Homo sapiens: one gene and its partners. The protein of the gene in region 1 purifies or fractionates together with the protein of each later gene. This does not show direct contact. Each region holds a gene or a part of one and is shown in the gene's direction. Other genes may lie near its edges. The genes, in order: EHBP1, POF1B, SERPINA12 and CELSR2.

Region 1 (6,337 bases):
TTTGTGTGCCATTGTTAGAGTTACTTATAGATTACACTTTAAAATACAGGGACTCAATGAGCTCAGTGATTCAGAGACAGCGTGTGGCAAATTGTCAAAACCTTTGCATCTGCTTTGATGTGATAATTCATGTTTGACATAGGAATGTAAAATATAAATGTTAATCCAATAGTGAAAGAGTGACTTAAAACTGATTTCTTAACTTGCTTATCTGTGTCAGACCTGAATTTGAATAACTATACTAAAATACTGGTTTTTCTTCTTTAGTGTTTTGGATGAATGATATAAAATATAAATAATATACTAACATTATTGCTACATGTTCCTACAGATGAAAATGATAATATTGAGATAGATACTAACGAGGAGATCCCTGAAGGCTTTGTTGTAGGAGGTGGAGATGAACTTACTAACTTAGAAAATGACCTTGATACTCCCGGTAATTTCAAATTATAAATGTTTTGTGTCCTGCTGCATGGCAAACTTTATGGTTATATTTTTATTATCTCATCAATAATAATAATAATTTTGTAGTTTTATTACATCTTATGGCCTCATAAACCATTTAGCTTAGTCCACCTTCCATCAATTTTATGTTATTTTGTTTTAGGTTGGATGTTAAAATTAGCAATAACATTGGAATAGCAAATTGTAGTTTGTGTTCTCTTGTTACTAAGATTCACTATTGTATTTTATGTTATGTGAGATAATCTGTAGGTTTTCAATAGCTGGTTCCCTTCTCAGCTTAAATATTTTGGTGTGATGTCAGAAGGTATATATTCCACATGTAAATCCAAACCATGGGATCAGATTTTCTGATTTAGTTTAGAATTATAGTCTTAGTTATAATATTATTTTGCAGATTTTCTGCTTACCTTACTTAAATATTACTCTAGTAAATGATTTTACATATACTTAACTGATTACAATAAGACACTTTGAAAACTATATAGACTGCTGTTAAATTAACCTTATGTCTTATATCAATAAATTGCTTTGGCAATGGACCTTTGTAAGTTCTTATTTAAAATACAAAGATATTTGCTGGTGGTTTTTAATAGGTGAATGTTCCAAATGCATTGCCTTTATAAGCCAGCAGCAAGTAGCAATCCAAAGTTTTGTATATCTGAGGGGTTCCATAAATGCTTGTTGAGTTGAATTCTTATGGCAATAAAAAGTCTTTGGTGATTTCTTTAGACTCAAAGGAGGGAGGCAAAGTCTCTAATATTTATCTTTTCCTGTAAAAAGCTAAAGGGAGTGAGAGCAAGCATACTTTTTCCTATCCATGGCATGCACCTGCAATGCTAATCTGCTCCATTTCTTTCCCTGTTGGAAATACTATTATTACTTCAATAAACAGGTGACCAGGGTTTTCCTGACTATAACGAACACTCAAGAAAACTCATGCCCTTTTGTCAGTAGCTCCTTCATGGCCGGGTGTTAAATTATACTATTGCTAAATAGAAGTCAGTATACTTATAATTGTGCAAGTCCAAAAGAATGCTGATATTTAAGGAAAACTTTTAAATGTTTAACCCAAAATTAGAACTACATTTTACTTCTTTCTGTTTAAAATACTACAGAACTTGGTTAGGTTTGATTTTTTTTTAAAAAAACATTTTTGTTGCTTACTCACCTTCCCACCATAACCACCACCAAAGGCTTTATCGGAAACCAATCACATCTTTTTAATGCTGAGGAGGACATCCATAAGTACTGGATTTAATTTTTTAATACTCAATTTATGGAAGTATAAAAGCATAAAATCAGTAACAATATGTGATGCATATGTCCTGATTCTACAGTAGGTTAGTAACACAGGAAAAAATAGCCATTTCTTAGGTAAAATAAGGGGAGAATTTTCTAGTTTCAGCTGTAGCAACTTTGGGGGATACTTTAAAGATGGGTTAATTTTAATCCTAACAGGCTTGACTCTTGTCATTTTTAAAAACTCTCCTCCTACTTAATGTTTTCCAAAACGAACACACATCTCAGCCTTCCTGTTTGGAGTTAACTAATAAATTGTTTACGGCTCTCAAGCATGCCAGTTAAGTGTTGGCATGGAAGTAGACAGGCCTCCCAGTTCAGATTTATGGTTTATTTTGTGGCAATAAGAAATAGGAATGCAAACTAGAATCTGGAAGCCCTTAGAATATATTATGATTTTTATCCTTGCTTTATTTTCCCCCCAAATTTTTTTCATATGTATATAAGTCATAAGGTTTTAATAATAAATTGTTTAATCTTTATCTTGATTTGACCATAGTTCATCAGATATTGTTTAAAAGAGAAGCCTTGCAATATAAACTGACCAATTTGCATGAAAGTAATGACAATAGCATTTATTAAGAGTCTTATAATTAGAAAAGTTATTAATCTTTATGAAAAATATCATCCAGCAAATGGTGGACATATCTATTGCGACCATTTTATTGAGGAGTTGCCTTTTATTAATTTAAGAATTAGTTGTGTTTCTACTCATTTTGAACTATTGTATTATGAAAGATTAATGTACATTAATACATTCCAAAAATGTAATAATCTGTATTGTATTTCTGCTATCTAAGTAGAGGGTATTTGTAAACATATACCCTGTTTCAATGCTGGTTATATAGGTACATATATAAACACTGGATTCTAATAGTATGTACATGATGATGATCTGAGATAATGTTAAGAATTTGTTTTAATATGGCATTATATTTATAAATCTGATATACTAAAAGAAAACTACAAAATAATATTCAAAATGAAATGTATCTCTTCTTTTAAATATCTAGTTTGTTATAACAGCTTGTTTTATTATGTATAACATACAGTGCTTATATAAATGTATACATCACATACAGGCATAGGTTTTTAGGTAAGCATTAGCTACTATTTAACTATAGTATAACTAAGTTCTCTTTAGATATGTTGACTGTATTCTTTAAGGGGAATGATTTTGGTGGGGGAATATATATATGTAAAGGATTTTTCATGTGTCTAATCTACTAATATCCTTTTCTTCTTTCTTTTAAAATATAGTAATACTTTTCTGAGCTCACATAAAATTGACAGCCTACATATCTAAATGCATCTCACTCAGTTATTCATGGTATTTGCATATTTAACAGAACAAAACAGTAAGTTGGTGGACTTGAAGCTGAAGAAGCTCCTAGAAGTTCAGCCACAGGTGGCAAATTCACCCTCCAGTGCTGCCCAGAAAGCTGTAACTGAGAGCTCAGAGCAGGACATGAAAGTAAGTCTTACTTGTTTAAAACATTTGGCTTAGTATCTGTGTCTTCTAGTTTCTGCCAGGAGTTTGTAATTCCAAAAACAATTTTTTACCTAATTTTTCACCAATATTAAGATTAGGGTATAAGAAATTTTTACTGGTGAGGTGTGGTGGCTCATGCCTGCAAGTCCAGCACTTTGGGAGGCCAAGGCAGGAGAATCAGTAGTTCAAGACCAGCCTGGGCAACATATTGAGACTTTGCTACTAAAAGTAAAACAATTAGCCAGGCATGGTGGTGCATGACTGTAGTCCCAGCTACTCAGGAGGCTGAGGCGGGAGGATTGCCTGAGCCCAGGAGTTCAAGGCTGCAGTGAGTGGTGATCATGTCACTGCACTCCAGCAGCGGAGACAGGGTGAGACCTTGTCTAAAAAAAAAAAAAAAAAATTAATTAATTAAAAAAATTGTATTAAATAGCCAATAAGTAAATATCAATATGGTAATCAGTATTCATATACTATTTTTCAGGGAAACTACTACTTTAAACTGCTATTTCAAGTAAAAATAGAGGCAATATGGAAACTATTCTTGAGTTCTATATGTATGTATATTTTGCTAAGACAAATACTGTTAAGAGAATTCTAGCGCATTTTTCAATAATCCTCAAGCTTCTGCCTATATAGATGAACTAAATGTATGTTATTTGTAAGAATCATCACACCTGAAAATGGTAATGTGATTGAATATAAATGTTTAAGATAACTTGCATGTGTTTTGTGCCATTATGCATCTTACCTTGTGTAACATTTTAGTCAAAAATGCCACATTATAAGACTATTATTAGACTGTTTATATTATTCCCACCCACATGTTTCCCTGCTTTCCTCACAGTGATTAGTATTTCTGTAGCTTTAGGGCACTTCCAGTCCTGTATAACTTTTCACCCACCTGCGGACTATGGGGACTGCCCTGCTGACTGAAAGGATTTCCTTCCCCTGACACAGAGATGCTTTGAAGTCCCAAAACAATGACTTTCATTGCTTTTCCCCTATATTGTCAGTTTCTATAAATTGGTGATGAAAGTGTGTGGCAGCACCAGAGGACTTTTGGTCTCTATCTTTGAACAAAAGGAAGCCTGGATCGGGTCTGATTTTTTGCGTTCAATTTAGCTTTCTGCAGTGGATTTAATGCAGAATGAAGCTGGCCTAAGAATAATACAATAGATTGAAAAGGCTAACTGAATTAGTGGGTTTAGAGGAATACATTTGTAAAGTGGCAGAAGTCCCTAGTCATAAAAAGGTTTCTTAAGATGGGATTTGCTGGCTAATCGCACTGATATTTTAGCATGTTGCCAGGCCTAAAAAAATTTAGCTGTGTTTGTTTATTTTGGTAAAGACTTGAGTATTAGACTATTGGATAGTTATATAACAGTAGAACTCTATTTTTCTTTAAAAAAATAGAATAAAAGCCAAAACTGTTGCTATCATAACTATATGGCTAGGATATTATAAGCATGATATTAATGATAAATTCATTAGATAACTTTAAAAAAATAAAATAGTGTTATTTTCATTATTATGGTTTATCTGTATAGATAAAATTGGTTTTGCTTTCCAAAACACTCTTATATAGTAGTCTTTAAAGTTATTCCAACAAAAGGTGTGCTTTAAACAGCTTGCCTTTGTATGATTCCTTTTAGTTAAGATTTTGAAAATGGTGTTTATAAAGAACATATAGAGTCCATCTGTTCTCTTGAAGCTTTCAGCGTTGACTTGGGTTTTAATTTTTTTTAATAAAATGCAGTTTACACATTTATAAATGAGGCATTCTGTGTTTGTGGAAAAGAATAAACTGTTACCTTCCCCTGAGGATTCTGTATCCCAGGCCTCCTTGAGGCTAGAGAATAGGCCATTGGAGGGCTCCCTCATTACTGATTGTCTCAATGCAGAGGAAGGGCAAAGTCTTGGTAGCTTTTGATAACCAGTTTCAGCATTCAGCAGGCTTAGCTATTAGTCATGCATCTTAGCCTTTCCCTATTTACTTTCAAAACACTTAATAAAAATAATAAAAGATTAGGTATAAAATGAAATATTTGTTTGGTACACAGCACCTCGGTATCTGCAGCTTCCACACACTGCAGTGGTTCAGTCTTCTGGGATATTTCTTGTTGATAGAACCATTTGAATTTGTTACCAGTATTAACATAGGAAGCTCCGGAAAAGATAATTGTAGTTTCCTTAGCTGTAAAGGGCTTACTTACAAATCTGGCTTTGGAAAGTTATAGCTGATGAAATGCAGTTCAGTAGGGTAGTATTATAATCCTACCTTTTAGCCTTCATCCAGCATTAGTGGTTTATCTCAATGGGCATAAAATTAGAAACTAGTTCTTGTTGTCATACAAGTCTGTGGGGCTGTACAAACTGATGACACAGAATAGTGGGGGAAATAGGAGGCAACATGGCTTTTAAATGATATGTATCACTGGTGGAAGACACATTCGTATCAAAGTTATCAAGAGTTAAACCATGTGTCCCAAAGTTTGTGATTACAGGCAACAGAACTTGCAGTTGAGCTCTTTAAAGTGCTTTAAAATCCTTTTCTTGCAAAAAGTTTCTAAATCAGTGTTATCTTAAATCAGTAAAAATTGCCTTACTAATGTGTAATTTTATGTTTATGAGATCAGGACTCTCTTACCATGTGTTGTTTTACGTTTAGAGTGGCACAGAAGATCTCCGGACTGAACGATTACAAAAAACAACAGAACGTTTTAGAAATCCTGTTGTGTTCAGCAAAGATTCTACAGTCAGAAAAACTCAACTTCAGTCTTTCAGCCAATATATTGAGAATAGACCAGGTAGAACACTTTTTAAAATGTTTTTCCATGTTATGGTTTAACTATATATAGATATCTATATATAGTATATATATATAGTATATATATATAGCATATATATATAGTATATATGTATATAATCTGGTAATGTAAATTCACATTTCAATACACAAATATCAAGCTTTACAATAATTTTACATGTCTTTCCTCTTTTTTTTTTAAGAGATGAAAAGGCAGAGATCAATACAGGAAGATACAAAGAAAGGAAATGAGGAGAAGGCAGCGATAA
Region 2 (6,337 bases), on another chromosome or scaffold:
TATAAATAACATGTTTCTTGCTATATAAGTTGAGTATAACATCTCAACAATAACCTCAGACAGGTGTTTAACTATGTTACATGGCTTTGAAAGATCCTAACAAAAACATCTCCCATACTATTCAGGGAATTTATTCAAATGGAGGTTTGCCTTGGCAAATTCTGTCAGCATAAATGTCAGGTGGTTTTTAAAGATATTGCTTCTTTTGAAACTGTTCAGCCTAGAGTATTTGTAACTCACCATTATTACCTTCAGTGATTCTCATAGTCATTGGGAGTAACAGGAGCATACACAAACCTTCCATGGTTTTCCTTCATGGAATATTATACTGTATATTAGTCTTTATGTAAAGTTTTAAAATTCAAATTAGACAACATAAAGAGTTATACTTTCATGTTAGCAAGTTTCCAAATATTTAGAAACAAAGCCTGCACTACGTATGTAATATTCTCTATGATTTAATTCTCATTACCTTCAGTCTTTCTTGTATGTCTTACACCAGGCTTTTGAGCTCTTTGACCACAGCTATCAACAGGAAAATGAAGCCAACAGGTCTTGACTGAAGAGGTTCAGATTTTGCAGTCTAAAGACCAATTGCAGAGAAAATTGTATGAAGAAAATGCCCAAAAAGGTCTATGTGGAATGTCTCAGGAAGAGCTGTAAATAAATATGCAATCATGAGGTGAACTTTGGCAGAATAGAACTATGAAGCAGTCTAGTTGGAGTCCCTAGGAATATTAATTTTAAAATCTCCACAACTTTAATTACACCTAAGAATATGTTCTCTAGAAAAGTTGCTTAAATTCCCTATACACATCCCATATCACTCCTCTGCTGCAAAAACCTTCAATGACACTAAGTATCTATAAATTGCTTAGTCTGACTTTCAAGGCCCTCCATGTTAGGGCTCCTGTGGAACTTCCTGGAACTCTCCTTCTGGTGTCCTATGTTTTAGCTAAGTGTAAATGATTGTTCTCTAAATAAAGTCCCCAATTTTCCACAGCTATGTCTTTCACTCCATTGCTCTTACATCTGAACTGCTCCTGCTCCTCACCCTCACCAATCTAGACACCCTGAAATTATACAAATTTTTCAAGCCTTTCCTCAAGTGTAACCTTCTGATCCTCTGATTGTCCCAGGTTGAAGTTATCTCTTAGCCCTCAAAACTTACCTAGTGAGCTTCTTATAGGTCTTATGATAGTCTACTTAATTCCTATTTGTACTCATAGTGTTTATGCCCTACATGATTATAACCATGAGAGGGTAGAGATTATATTCTAACATCATTTGTATCTCTTTCAATGCCACTACACAATAAGTAGTAAAGAAACTGCAAGTTAGTAACTTAGTCACATATATAATCAATCCAGTGAAAATAATATTTCATATTAATACATGGGTTTTTTGTTTTTCACAACTCTTCCATGTATATGATTATCTAGTAAACAACTTGATAGAACCTCAACAATTAGATAAAACATGCATTATTATGTTTATTGTACAAATTGTACGATGTACAAATAAAGACAATATTCATTGTGTATTATTTATCTGTTAAACAAATAAGGAAATTGAGACTCGAATAGCTCAAAATAACTTGCCTATTTAGTACAGCTGGTTAGTGAATGCCCTGAGTTTAAAAACCAGCTCCTGATATTTTCATTACATCAGCTATCTCCCTTAATTAACTTTCGATATTCATGATTTCAGTTTAAATTAGTTCACATTTTTTATTTCAACAAAACATTTGATGATTACCCTTACTGTATATTTTCCCATTCTAATGTTCCATTATCAGAATGGAAAATATCAAAAATACATTAGAGGACAAAAATAGTTTTCCCTCTAGTTTTCAAGGTCTTGCTCAGAAATAATCCTAGAATTCAGGGTATATATTAAGTTTTTAAGGTTTTCTTTCTTTCAAAGGAGAATAACACCTTTTGAGCTTCTGCCTTCCCTTCTTTCTTTACTGCACTGAGCTACTCAAAAGCATTTTCACTAAAGTAAATAACTGAGACATTTAGGCCATTTGCACATCATCTGATTTAACTCTGAAAACAGCTTATATATAAAACTGCCCTTTCTGCACATGTACCCCAGAACTTAAAGTATATATATATATAGTATATATAATATAATATATATAAATATGAATAAAATATATTTATATATATATATACTTTAAGTTCTGGGGTACATGTGCAGAAAGGGCAGTTTTGTTACATAGGTATAAACGGGCAATGGTGGTTTGCTGCACCCATCAACCCGTCACCTACATTAGGTATTTCTCCTAATGTTATCCGTCCCCTAGGTCCCCATCTTCTGACAGGCCCCTGTGTGTGATGTTCCCCTGAAAACAGCTTTTTTAACAAATAGGTGGAAATAAGATATACTTTTATGAATAATGAATTCTCTAGGGAAACCAGAGTTTCCTAGCTCAGATTTAGTGTGTACAAAGGTATGGACAATTATCTCAAGTGATGTAATGAAATTATCCCCAAGCCCACATAATTATAAACCAAATTCTTTTTCATTTCTTTTTTTTTTTTTTTTGAGACAGAGTCTCGCTCTGTCGCCCAGCCTGGAGCACAGTGGCACGATCTCGGCTCACGGCAAGCTCTGCCTCCCAGGTTCACGCCATTCTCCTGCCTCAGCCTCCTGAGTAGCTGGGAATATAGGCGCCCGCCACCACACCCGGCTATTTTTTTGTATTTTTAGTAGAGACGGGTTTTCACCATGTTAGCCAGGATGGTCTCGATTTCCTGACCTCGTGATCCGCCCACCTCAGCCTCCCAAAGTGCTGGGATTACAGGCGTGAGCCACCACGCCCGGCCCCAAATTCTTTTTCACCAGACTCTACTTAAAGTTGCCAATAAAGTATAATGTTTGTGTATATAGCAAGTCTGACCCACAGGAATAAACGACTCAACAAAATGCTGAATATTTTATCAGAAAAAGTAAGGTCTTCCTGCAAAATTGAAGAGATTAGATGATATGAGCATTAAACAAAAATTCAATGGTTTATTGAGTTTTAGAGGCTTGTGAGTACACTCTGTAAATGTACCACGCGTTTTACAAATTCTATTGAGTTTATGGAAACTTAAATTATCTAATCAAGGCTGTTCTCTCACACAGCTACTTGTGGGTGGGTGTCTTATTTTCAGGCCTCCAAAGTTGCTTTTGACACTGAATAATTTTAAAAGTCCCAGTATTTGACCTTCTGTTATAAGGACTAGTCAAACTTAACCATATAATTAGGTTACACAACTTGAAAAACAGAAAATATAATGAAGCAAGCAATAAACGTGGCAAAATATGGTGATTAAGAGCATGAGTTCTGGAGTCATGCTGAGTTGGAATTCCAGCACCTTAGCATTAGCTGTGTAATCTCCATCTGGTTACCTATCCTACCTCTGTCTAACTTCACTTGTTTATGTAATGGGGTTATAATAGTATCTTCTTTATGGGGTTATTTTGAGTGTTAAAGAGAATGATCTATGTAACATGTTTGGCACAGAAAGCTATTAATAGGTGTTAGTCATCATTATAATCATCATCAAAAGGAAAACAATACTGACAAGTTTAAAAAATTTGAAATTGTTTTGTTTGTATGGAAAAATAAGTTGGGAATGGTCTCTTATATTCACAGAACGTCAGAAACAAACTTAAAGATCCTCTAATCCACACTCGCCCACACCCATATCCCATTTCTCATTTCTCACATGAGGAAACAAATCTCAGAGAGAGAACATGAGTTGACCAGTATTACAAAAGTGGCTAGTAGTATAAATGGGAATAAAATCCAGGTCTGCTGACTCCAAGTCTAGCACTTTTTCCACTATGTCATGATAACCACCACCACCCCATTATCGCCTTCAATTATTTGGTCATCAGGAATGTGGGGCTGTGGCACAAAAGGCATAAAAACAAAAACATTGACTGTTCATTGAATTTAATAGTTTCAACATGAAGGATTTAGGTAAGCTATACACAGATGAGTAACAAAATTAAACACTGACTGATACAGGTTATTAAGAGGGAGATTTGGATTGTTATTCCTGGAGTGCTTTTAAAACTAAGATCTCCTTTTCATTCATTCTTTCAAAAATATTTTGGATCACTTTCTATGGAATGGTCAATGGCTATTTATGGGATGACTTGCTGCAATCTTGCCTAGATCTTGATGCCATTGAAAGTACCTTTCAACATCAAGGTTTTGTTCATTCTGGACATTTACTCACACCATCTTACTTAATTTTGTAGACTTCCAGGGAAAAGGGGTTTTCTTTAGCAAGTATTTCTGGAATTAATAAACCTATTTTCAGAGAGGTTTTCCCCCTTATGATCAGCCTAAATCCATACTGATGCAATTTAAATTCATGCTGTTCAACACCATATGTCTAAATATCTTTGACTCATATTAAGCTACATCTTAATGTTGTAATTTTTGAACCTATTATATTTGTTCTCTAATGTTTCCATGAGGGTTGCGTGGGAAAGCCACATTTGTCTAGATGATCAATTTTAATAATGAAGGCTGAAGTAGGGCTAAAAATAATTGAGTACATTATAATCTATGGACTTAATGTTCCAGCTTTCCACATATAAGAAGATTAAAGAATTCCTTCATTTTAGGGCAAGACTAGTCTTTGCTCAAATACAACTGTTTGCCATTTAAACATCTATTATCTTAACATCTGAATAAAGTAATACTGCTTATACTAGCATAAATAAATGTCTTTATCTGTGATGTGTGATGTGTGTGTATTCCTATTTGTTTAAATTTCTGCAGATTTATAAAACTTCTTAGTACGCTTTTGTATCTTAAAAGCTAGTCCAGTTGGCTAGTAAGATTTGCTATGTTTCATTTGCTAATGCCATCATATTTGAATTGGTTACAAGAAGGACAGAGCTATCATTTCTACAACAGCTACCAGATACTAACCATGTGTATAGTTGTCTTCTCAGAATGATACTAGTATAATATTATTAGCCCCAGCCTAAACAGACCAAACATCCTCTAGACATGAATACCTTCACACACTGCTGGTGGATGTATAATTATCATAGTCAAATTTGGGAAATTAGTTGGGCAGTATCTGTTCAAATGAATAACACACATACTCCATGCCCCAGCAATCCCAATTCTGTGTGGGATTCTAAAGAAACATGTTGCACAAGGATGCTCATTGCAGCACAGTGGAAACCTGGAAACAATATAAATGTTAATCAGCAGGAAAACATAAAAACAAGCTATAAAGCAAGCATTTTGGAATACTATTAATTGAAAATAATGAGTTAAAACATGTATCTAGTACATAATACAAGAGATACTGTTTGGTTTAAGTTGTAGAACAATGAAAGCAATAATATTACTATTTATACATAGGTATATATGTAAAGACATCTTAACTGACAACAATAGTCACTTCTGGGTAAGTGAATGGAGGAAAGATGGTCAAGAGAAGGTCTTTAACCTTATCTATATAAATGTTTATATTAAGAATGTGTTCATGTGTTATTCCATAACTAAAGAGCACCCCTCTTTTTTCTTGTCTTCTTGAATCTGCTCCTCTTGGGTCTGTGGGCCAAACCTGCCTGCACATGGTTGTATTTATAACCATTTTCCTAAACTGGATAATGTGTACCTGTTTTGTCTATAATCTGTAATTCTCTGCATTTGTCTGAGCAAGTCTTCTCAATTATTAGCAGAAAATCTGAGAATATATGCAAAAGATTCCTAGAAATACTGAGCCTGCAGTATTGCTGTTGATATAAAGGGTGGTGGAGGATGAAAATGTTACAAGTTCAACAACAGCAACAACAAGAAAGAATTCAGAACATTTGGCAGTTTGAGTAAATGCATAGTCCTGTTTTAAGAATACATGTAACACCTACATTATAGCTATAGTTCTGTATGAGTCTGTCAGTGTTTCCCTTGTAAATTAATGATTCTGATTTTTAATAGTTCCCTTGTTCTACAGAAAAAATATTTATACCTTTGTAGGAAGATATAATGGAGTCGTGCCAATTGATTGTAAATTATGGTAAGGTATGGGGAGATTGAGTAACGCCATCATTTCTTTGCACACTAATGAAGTGATTGCAGTTTTGTTGGTTTTGAGGAAATATGTAAACAATGCCAGCATGATGGACAGATTGATCATTTTATTGGACCATTTTAAAAAATTATATTCTTTCACTTTTACAGATTATTTTAACAACAGAGCCTACTCTGAAATTAGACTAGAAGCAGAATAGACAAAGCATAATTAAGAGTTAGCTTGAAGTGATTTAAAATTAATTACTCTTAGTTGCATTTTCAAAGGTAGTTTGA
Region 3 (2,846 bases), on another chromosome or scaffold:
GCGAGGTAAGCCTGCCTAGCCTGGACTCCACTCCCTGCAGCACAGGGGCCTTCCCCCAGCCGGGGCCAGAGCCAGGGTCACAGTGGCTGTCAGAGCCGAGACTCCACCCACCAGTCGGGGCGGGCATGAATGCAGCTGTGCCCCTTACCAACCCCGTGATCCTGGGCAAACCACATAACCTCCCCCAGCCTCATGCTTCCAGTCTTTAAAACTGCTGCTATTTTGGAAATCAATTCAATGTAGCAAACGTTGATCAAGGCCTGGAACAGTTATCAGGCCTAGAACTGGTCTAGGTCTAACCCAGACCCTCTCTCAAAGGCCACATCCGTCTTTCTTTCTTTCTTTTCTTTCTTTCTTTCTCTTTCTTTCTCTCTTTCTCTCTCTCTTTCTTTCCTCTTTCTCTCTCTCTTTCTCTCTTTCTTTCTTTTTCTTTCTCTGTCTCTCTCTCTCTTTTTTTCTTTCTTTCTTTCTTTCTCTCTCTCTCTCTCTCTTCCTTCCTTCCTTCCTTTCTTTCTTTTATTTTGTTTTTTGAAGGAGTCTTGCACTGTCACCCAGGCTGGAGTACAGTGGTGCGATCTCAGCTCACTGCAACCTCCACCTCCCAGGTTCAAGCAATTCTCCTGCCTCAGCCTCCCGAGTAGCTGGGATTACAGGCGCCCGCCACCATGCCCGGCTAATTTTTTTGTATTTTTAGTAGAGACAGGGTTTCACCATGTTGGCCAGGCTGGTCTCAAACTCCTGACCTCAGGTCATCCACCCACCTTGGCCTCCCAAAGTGCTGGGATTACAGGCGTGAGCCACCGCGCCCAAGGCCACATGTTTCATATGAGTTGGCATAAGCATATGCTGCATAGGAAGAGATGACCAAGCAAAGGGGCCTGTGGCCCCTGGCAAAGGTGAGCACCTGACTGTCTGGGGCAAGAAGAGAGCACCATATAGGTAGAGTCACCGGATTTAGCAGATTTCATACAGGATACCCAATTAAATTTGAATTTTAGATAAATGATGAATAATATTTTTAGTGCCAGTATGTTCAGAATATTTCACGGGACACACTTACACTAAAACATATTCATTGTTTATCTTGAATTCAAATTTCAGTGGATGTCCTGTATTTCACCTGGCAACCCTACTTTGGGGTTAAAAAGGCATTGAAGGAGGGGAAAGATTTCAACAAGCAGAGATGGGTGCGGGGATGGGTGCAGCAGTGTGGCCAAGGCTGGGGGTTTTTGGATATCATGGAGTAGTGGGTGGTGGGGATTGGGTGCTTAGTGGAGATAAAGTGGGAGGTTCAAGCCAGTCTGGGAAGGATCCAGCTTGCCAAGCTGAGCCCGCTGCTCTGAATCAGATGGCACAGATTCCACTGTATTTTTCACGTTGACATAAGAAACATAGTTACTAGAATTTTCTCACTTTTGAGCTTTCCTGCCACAGACTTCCCACAAACATTTAACACCAGCTCTGAAGGTCTTGTTGAGTTTAATGGCTCATTTCTTTCTGTAGTTACGTTTGCTGATAGCTGTGATTGTAACACAGGATACTGTCCTGTTTTCTGCAAGTAAAATTGTGAGAATTTTGTAGGCTAGCAAGAAATGTGCCAGGATTTCACACATGCCCGTTAGTTTCCCAGTACTGATCACCTGTTTACAGACGTTGATGCCTTTGGAGTGGATTTGGGATGCAAGTCATCTCAAAGAGCTAATCCAGAATCCTTCTCCCTCTTAACCATCCACCAGGTGGATGAAAGGAGGTGCTGGAGGCTTCAGGGTGGGGGTACCACCACCTCACTTTCACCCAGCTACAGCCCAGTAGACCTTTCTGCCACGGCTATGGTTGATGCTTCCCTGTAACCCATGAGAAAGAGAAGCAAACCCCACTCCATCTCTCCCCCCACCGACTCCCGTAACTGATGCTCCCCCTGCACCATCTTTTCCTTCACACGGCATCTGCTTGTCGAATATTCTCCAGCATTAATGGCGAAAGAGCCAGGAACCCTGGAGTAAACCAAGTTACTGCTGTGCTGGATGGCTTGGGCCAAGTGGTCTTCCTCTCTGATCCTCTCTGGGCCTCCGGCCCACTGTGGTCGCCAAGGAGCTTGGCAGACCTTGACTTTGCCCTTGGCTTCCGTAGGCTGTGCACAAGGCTGAGCTGAAGATGGATGAGAGGGGTACGGAAGGGGCCGCTGGCACCGGAGCACAGACTCTGCCCATGGAGACACCACTCGTCGTCAAGATAGACAAACCCTATCTGCTGCTGATTTACAGCGAGAAAATACCTTCCGTGCTCTTCCTGGGAAAGATTGTTAACCCTATTGGAAAATAAAGGAGAATTCCTGCTTGCCACAGACCCCGAACATGGCTTGGGGTTGAACATGTTCCATCTTCCTGAGATGGAAGTCACAGGCACATTTCAGTTTAGTCTCTCCCTGTCACCACCTCCCTAGACAGCCCGAATGAGCAAAACTGCAAGTTCTAGAAGTCCTGTGCCCCATTTCCTCCCTGCCCATTCAAATGCTGGGATGCAATGCCCCACCCCCGCCCACTTGGTGGCATTCTCCTCTCCCCTCCAGCGGGCAGAGGGACTCTGTGATTTAGTAAACAAATGTTTCTCCCCCACAGCCCTGCCCCAGGTTGACTGGCTGTTGGTGGATAATTTGGGGAAGGTATGGGCCACAGCAAGTACCTGGGGTCTCGAGTGAGAGACTGGGGTTCAAATCCTGGAATGAGGTATCTTTGGGAAAGCCACAAACCCTCTCTGAGTCTGTCTTCTTATTTCTGAAGTGAAGGTCCCGCCCCTCCCTTTGGGGCTCCAAGGAAGCTAGTTCAGTGCTTTAACAAAGTCGGTCC
Region 4 (6,337 bases), on another chromosome or scaffold:
GGGGGCAGGGGGATGATTTTTGTGGGTCTCAGGATGCTCTGGGCCCTGTAGAAAAGTATGAAAAAGACAACATAGGGTTCCCGCGCAGGCAGCACAGACTCTGGGGGAAGGGAGCAGGAGCGGTGGCTTGGGCAGGGAAAGGTGCACAAACATTAAGAGGTGTGCCGTGCATCAGCGACAGAAGGTTTTGGGAAAGGATGCAAAGAGAACTGCAAATCTCATCCCCTGAGCCCTGAAGGAGTGATTGGCCCACACGTGACATACCTGGCTCAGCACCCTTATGCCAGTTGGAAAGGAGAGCCTTTCTTGGTGGGTGGTGCAGGAATATGCAGGCTGAATTGCAGCCCCAGGCTGGGTCCTGACTGTGTCCCTCTCCACAGACGGCGTACACAGCGTGACCGCCCAGTGCGCGCTGCGTGTGACCATCATCACCGATGAGATGCTCACCCACAGCATCACGCTGCGCCTGGAGGACATGTCACCCGAGCGCTTCCTGTCACCACTGCTAGGCCTCTTCATCCAGGCGGTGGCCGCCACGCTGGCCACGCCACCGGACCACGTGGTGGTCTTCAACGTACAGCGGGACACCGACGCCCCCGGGGGCCACATCCTCAACGTGAGCCTGTCGGTGGGCCAGCCGCCAGGGCCCGGGGGCGGGCCGCCCTTCCTGCCCTCTGAGGACCTGCAGGAGCGCCTATACCTCAACCGCAGCCTGCTGACGGCCATCTCGGCACAGCGCGTGCTGCCCTTCGACGACAACATCTGCCTGCGGGAGCCCTGCGAGAACTACATGCGCTGCGTGTCGGTGCTGCGCTTCGACTCCTCCGCGCCCTTCATCGCCTCCTCCTCCGTGCTCTTCCGGCCCATCCACCCCGTCGGAGGGCTGCGCTGCCGCTGCCCGCCCGGCTTCACGGGTGACTACTGCGAGACCGAGGTGGACCTCTGCTACTCGCGGCCCTGTGGCCCCCACGGGCGCTGCCGCAGCCGCGAGGGCGGCTACACCTGCCTCTGTCGTGATGGCTACACGGGTGAGCCAAGGGAGGGGACTCATGGGCCAGCCCTGGAAGGCTGACTGTGTGGTGCAGGCACAAATCAGGACAAATGCTGGCGGCTGCCTCATTCTCTTCCCGAGTGAGGTGCAGCTACACTGAGAGGTCATAAATCCGGCCTGCTCCCTGACAGCACCCCACTGAGGAAGGCAGTGCAAGGAGTGCTTCTCCCTGCTGTGCACAGGACACACAGGCAGTGCCATTGTGGGCAGAGCTGGCTCCAGAGCCAGTCGGCCTGTGTTCGTGTATCAGCTTTGCCGCTAGTAGCTGTGTGACCTTGAACAAGTTACTTAACCTTTCTGGCCCTCGGTTATTTGAAATGGAGATAATGACCGTACTTAGGTCATAAGTTGGTTGTGAGGATTAATGTAATTAATTTGATACTTGGAAACAGCTGGTGGCATGGAAGGTGTTGGCCTTGATTTAAGGGAACGCTGAGATTGGGTGACTTGCTCCTGGTCTCATCACACCCGGTTTAGAGGTGAGGCTGGGCCTAGAACCTGGTCTCTCCCCCACTGAGCGAGTTCCTTTTCTGAGCTGCAGCAAGTACTTTTCTCCCCAGGCATTAAGGGGAAGACACAGAAGAGCTGGGGGAACTGGAGGGGGTTGAGTTCTGAGATGGGGTGCTCCAGAAAACCATTGCACCTGTATGGGCCTGGGCAGAATGGCTCCGCCTCCGCCCAGCTGCTGGTAAAAGAGGATCCTGGCTAGGCGGCTTCCCTGTTGGCCTGTCAGCCAAGGTCTTTACACATCCTGCTCCCTGGGATGCTCACTGTCTCTGCTCTATGCTCCTGACCCCTCCCTTCAGGCTCCTGTGTCTTCTCAGGACACCCCCTGCTCCCCTTCCCTGTGGGCCTTTCCTTCCTAGATGCCCAGGCCCTGCTCCTTGTCCTCCAGGGCCATGCCCACTGGCTCTGCCAGCAGCCATAGGCAGGCCCCACTCCTTCCCCGCTGCATCTTCCTGCCCAGAACTTGCCAGACTTGACTTCTCTCTGCTGCTGCTAGGGGTGGGGGGAAGGGGAGGGACGGGCTTGGGGGAGGGGAGAGAAGTCTTTGTCCAGGAGGATGGTGGGGGGGGTTGGGAGGGGGGGGGTTAGAGCAGGCGAACAACAGTTTCCATGGAAACAAGAGCCAGTCACTAGGCACAGGAGCTGAGAACCTATCTCTAGAATCTGGGAATGGGGAGGGAGAGAAGGGTGGATTTTCCCATCTGATGTTGGAGTTTTCAGCTCCTCTGTTGAATTCTTGTCTGCTCTCAGGGCTCAGTTTCCCACTCTCAGCATGTCCCAGGTGCACAGAGGTCCTTAGTCTGGACCGCAGGGCTCAAGGTGGGAGTCCTCTGCCCCATTCCTGGGGGCTCCCCAGCTTCTCTCTCATACTCTTCCATAACCCAGACAAATCTAAGTGGAAGCCTGGTCCCATCCCCAGGGAGGGAAACTGATCTCAGTGCCTGAGAGGGACAAAAGCACCAGTGGGAAGGAGGGAGGAGGGAGGCTCCCAGCCCTCCCGCTGTCCTGCAGGCCCATCTGCTTGTGCACATTTACCCTCTTGGGGGCCAGGACACCCCCAGGTGTGCTTGGTAGTGTGACATCGAAGGCTCCCGGGATCCGGGCCTTACAACCAAGTGTCCCAGCAGGCCTGTGCTTATGAAACCCAAATGGGGTAGGGAAGGTGCTGGGGACTCCGAGGAACTTGCAGGGGAGCAGTGCGTGGAGCTGTGGCGAGAGCGGCTCAGTGAGCCAAACAGGGTGCCCATGAAGGGCTGGGGACCATAGGTCTCAGAGAAGATGGCACACGAGAGGAAGTGGGGATGCCTGGGAGGTTTGGGGAGTATTACGAGGGTCACGGGAGGCCATGGGAGCTATCACTGGGTTGTGGGGGGTCTCAGTTCCCCTCCTGTCCTCAGGTACTTGGTACTCACCTGCCTTTCCTCTTGTCCAGGTGAGCACTGTGAGGTGAGTGCTCGCTCAGGCCGTTGCACCCCGGGTGTCTGCAAGAATGGGGGCACCTGTGTCAACCTGCTGGTGGGCGGTTTCAAGTGCGATTGCCCATCTGGAGACTTCGAGAAGCCCTACTGCCAGGTGACCACGCGCAGCTTCCCCGCCCACTCCTTCATCACCTTTCGCGGCCTGCGCCAGCGTTTCCACTTCACCCTGGCCCTCTCGTGAGTGGCTGGGCACTGGGGGTGGGGAGTGGGCCTGGTGGGCATCTGAGGTGCCTCCTGTTCTGTGGTTGAAGTAAGAGGTCAGGCAGTGAAAGCGTGGAGCAGGCTGCCGGCAGAGCCAGGTCTGCTCTTGGAGTTGCCTGTGGTTCTGCCAGCAGATCTCCCTCCCCTGCGCTGGTTAGGTGGCGGGGGTGCTGGCATCCAGGTGGGTACCCCATTCCCTGCCCCCATCCCCAACTCCTGTTCAGGTTTGCCACAAAGGAGCGCGACGGGTTGCTGTTGTACAATGGGCGTTTCAATGAGAAGCATGACTTTGTGGCCCTCGAGGTGATCCAGGAGCAGGTCCAGCTCACCTTCTCTGCAGGTGATCACAGTTGCCCCCCATCCTTGCCCATCTTCCAAAGGCCCCAAGTCTTCCAGCCCCTGACCCCAAGCCACATACTCTATCAGCCAAATCTGGGCCCAGCCCCAGCCACTGGCACCCCAAACCCTGCCATTCCTAGCCCTCGTCAGGCATTCCAGCTCACCTGGTCCTTTCCCCAGGGGAGTCAACCACCACGGTGTCCCCATTCGTGCCCGGAGGAGTCAGTGATGGCCAGTGGCATACGGTGCAGCTGAAATACTACAATAAGGTGGGTGTGGAGGGCACAGAGGGTTGGGGGTTCTGTTCTTGCCTCAGGTGCTTACCCAGCCCTGAGTGGCATTGCCTCCAGGCTTGGGTGGGCTGGTCAGGGCATTTCTGGCTGAGAGGAAGGGAGCGGCTGGGAAGGTGCCACCTTGCTGGGCATTCCCACCCCACTGGGCACTGCTCGATGCTCTCTGTTCCACTAGGCAGCCGCAAACTTGGACACTGAGGAAGGTAGTTACATGCATAAACCACGTGAGCACACGTGTGTGTATATGCATGTGTGTACGTGTGTCTGGGCATGTGGGTGCACACAGAGGCACCCAGTGTGTGCTGGCCATGAACCTAGTGGGCTCTGTACTCAGTGTCCCCCTTCTCTGCTCTTTCCTGTCCACAGCCACTGTTGGGTCAGACAGGGCTCCCACAGGGCCCATCAGAGCAGAAGGTGGCTGTGGTGACCGTGGATGGCTGTGACACAGGAGTGGCCTTGCGCTTCGGATCTGTCCTGGGCAACTACTCCTGTGCTGCCCAGGGCACCCAGGGTGGCAGCAAGAAGTGAGCAGGGGAAAGGGCCAGGGATGGGGTGAAGTGAGGGCAGGGCCAGGCAGGGAGGGAAGGTGGAGAGGGTGGGCTTTTGGGGTCTCTCTCCCTTTGCCTCTCTTAGCCCCTGCTCAGCCCTGGGGATGGGGTCAAGACTGGGGAATCAGAGCAAGGCCCTGTGGGGCAGTCTGGGGAGGGGGCTGAGTGTTCGACAAGAACAGTTCCAGGTAGGGGTGACGCCCTTCCTGAGCACTGCTCTGCAGGGCCTCTTGGACACCTGCCTACGCCGTTCGTGTCTCTGGCCTGGCGGCAGAGCGAGCGGAGGACCAGAAGCTCCCAGCCCTCCCTTGTGCCGCCACCATCTTTGCTCCCCCAGGTCTCTGGATCTGACGGGGCCCCTGCTACTAGGCGGGGTGCCTGACCTGCCCGAGAGCTTCCCAGTCCGAATGCGGCAGTTCGTGGGCTGCATGCGGAACCTGCAGGTGGACAGCCGGCACATAGACATGGCTGACTTCATTGCCAACAATGGCACCGTGCCTGGTATGGGGGCCCGGGGTGGAGCCAGGCTGGGATCCCAGTGCTGAGAGGAGGGGCTGTGCCTGGTGTGAGGATGCCAGAATGGAGGGTCTCAGAGGCCTCTCTAACTGCTGCCACAGGCTTTCTCTTTAGAGCCCCAGCTCAGGTCCACTGAGCTGCCTTCTCTCCATTCCAGGCTGCCCTGCCAAGAAGAACGTGTGTGACAGCAACACTTGCCACAATGGGGGCACTTGCGTGAACCAGTGGGACGCGTTCAGCTGCGAGTGCCCCCTGGGCTTTGGGGGCAAGAGCTGCGCCCAGGGTAGGAGGGGCGGCTGTTAGAGGCCACAGCCTGGGTGCCATCAACAGTCTGGGAACTGGCAGGGTTGGGGCAGGCACTGGGCAGGGCTCTGCTGAGCGGGGCTGTGGGTGGAAAAGCGTGTCTGGGCAGAGCCCTGAAAGGGCAACACAGGAGACAAAGGGGCCAGTCAGAGGCAGGCCTGGGCACAGCGTGGGGCGGTCCCAGGGCAGGTACGCACTTTGGAGGGCGGGGCTGATGAGGGGAGTGGGCTCTGCCTCCCGTGCAGCCGCCACCGCTGAGCATCACAGCCCCAGGGCCCTCTGAGGCTCCACCCGTCACAGTCTGCCTTTTCCTGCCTCCCCAGAAATGGCCAATCCACAGCACTTCCTGGGCAGCAGCCTGGTGGCCTGGCATGGCCTCTCGCTGCCCATCTCCCAACCCTGGTACCTCAGCCTCATGTTCCGCACGCGCCAGGCCGACGGTGTCCTGCTGCAGGCCATCACCAGGGGGCGCAGCACCATCACCCTACAGGTGATGCATGGAAGGGCGGCTGGCCCTGGCCTGGCCATAGGGCCCTGGTAGCCTCTAGGCGGCTGGACAGAAGTGGCTGGGCAGGTCCTGGGCAGGGGTGGGGACATATAGAGGCCGCTGGATCCGTTGGGAAGGTCAATGCTGCCACCTGTTGGGCCTGAGGGAAATAAATACGCTTTCCTCTCTATGGCCTCAGCTGGGCAGCGGGATGGGTTTGATGGTCCAGAAAGGGGAACTGTGAGCTGGAGAACAGTGATTAAGGCCGTCTGCTGACCCTGTTTTCTTTCCTCCTGGTGTCAGCTACGAGAGGGCCACGTGATGCTGAGCGTGGAGGGCACAGGGCTTCAGGCCTCCTCTCTCCGTCTGGAGCCAGGCCGGGCCAATGACGGTGACTGGCACCATGCACAGCTGGCACTGGGAGCCAGCGGGGGGCCCGGCCATGCCATTCTGTCCTTCGATTATGGGCAGCAGAGAGCAGAGGGCAACCTGGGCCCCCGGCTGCATGGTCTGCACCTGAGCAACATAACAGTGGGCGGAATACCTGGGCCAGCCGGCGGTGTGGCCCGTGGCTTTCGGGGCTGTTTGCAGGTGAGTGTCCTGCCCTGCCCTCC

Evidence for each region.
Region 2: the proteins of EHBP1 (region 1) and POF1B purify together in Homo sapiens (affinity purification with mass spectrometry; one large-scale study listed by BioGRID and IntAct). This does not show direct contact.
Region 3: the proteins of EHBP1 (region 1) and SERPINA12 purify together in Homo sapiens (affinity purification with mass spectrometry; one large-scale study listed by BioGRID and IntAct). This does not show direct contact.
Region 4: the proteins of EHBP1 (region 1) and CELSR2 purify together in Homo sapiens (affinity purification with mass spectrometry; one large-scale study listed by BioGRID and IntAct). This does not show direct contact.

What each region holds. Positions count from the first base shown.
Region 1 is NC_000002.12:62,987,600-62,993,936, forward strand, and holds part of EHBP1 (EH domain-binding protein 1), read left to right. Parts: intron 1-331; coding exon of another isoform or gene 332-439; intron 440-3,116; coding exon 3,117-3,241; intron 3,242-5,930; coding exon 5,931-6,069; intron 6,070-6,271; coding exon 6,272-6,337. UniProt on the Homo sapiens protein: May play a role in actin reorganization. Links clathrin-mediated endocytosis to the actin cytoskeleton. May act as Rab effector protein and play a role in vesicle trafficking.
Region 2 is NC_000023.11:85,368,560-85,374,896, reverse strand, and holds part of POF1B (protein POF1B), read left to right. Parts: intron 1-6,337. UniProt on the Homo sapiens protein: Plays a key role in the organization of epithelial monolayers by regulating the actin cytoskeleton. May be involved in ovary development.
Region 3 is NC_000014.9:94,486,779-94,489,624, reverse strand, and holds the end of SERPINA12 (serpin A12 precursor), read left to right. Parts: coding exon 1-5; intron 6-2,130; coding exon 2,131-2,322; 3' UTR 2,323-2,346; downstream 2,347-2,846. UniProt on the Homo sapiens protein: Adipokine that modulates insulin action by specifically inhibiting its target protease KLK7 in white adipose tissues.
Region 4 is NC_000001.11:109,258,052-109,264,388, forward strand, and holds part of CELSR2 (cadherin EGF LAG seven-pass G-type receptor 2 precursor), read left to right. Parts: intron 1-380; coding exon 381-1,028; intron 1,029-2,990; coding exon 2,991-3,213; intron 3,214-3,461; coding exon 3,462-3,577; intron 3,578-3,756; coding exon 3,757-3,845; intron 3,846-4,235; coding exon 4,236-4,393; intron 4,394-4,754; coding exon 4,755-4,918; intron 4,919-5,090; coding exon 5,091-5,216; intron 5,217-5,559; coding exon 5,560-5,726; intron 5,727-6,026; coding exon 6,027-6,314; intron 6,315-6,337. UniProt on the Homo sapiens protein: Receptor that may have an important role in cell/cell signaling during nervous system formation.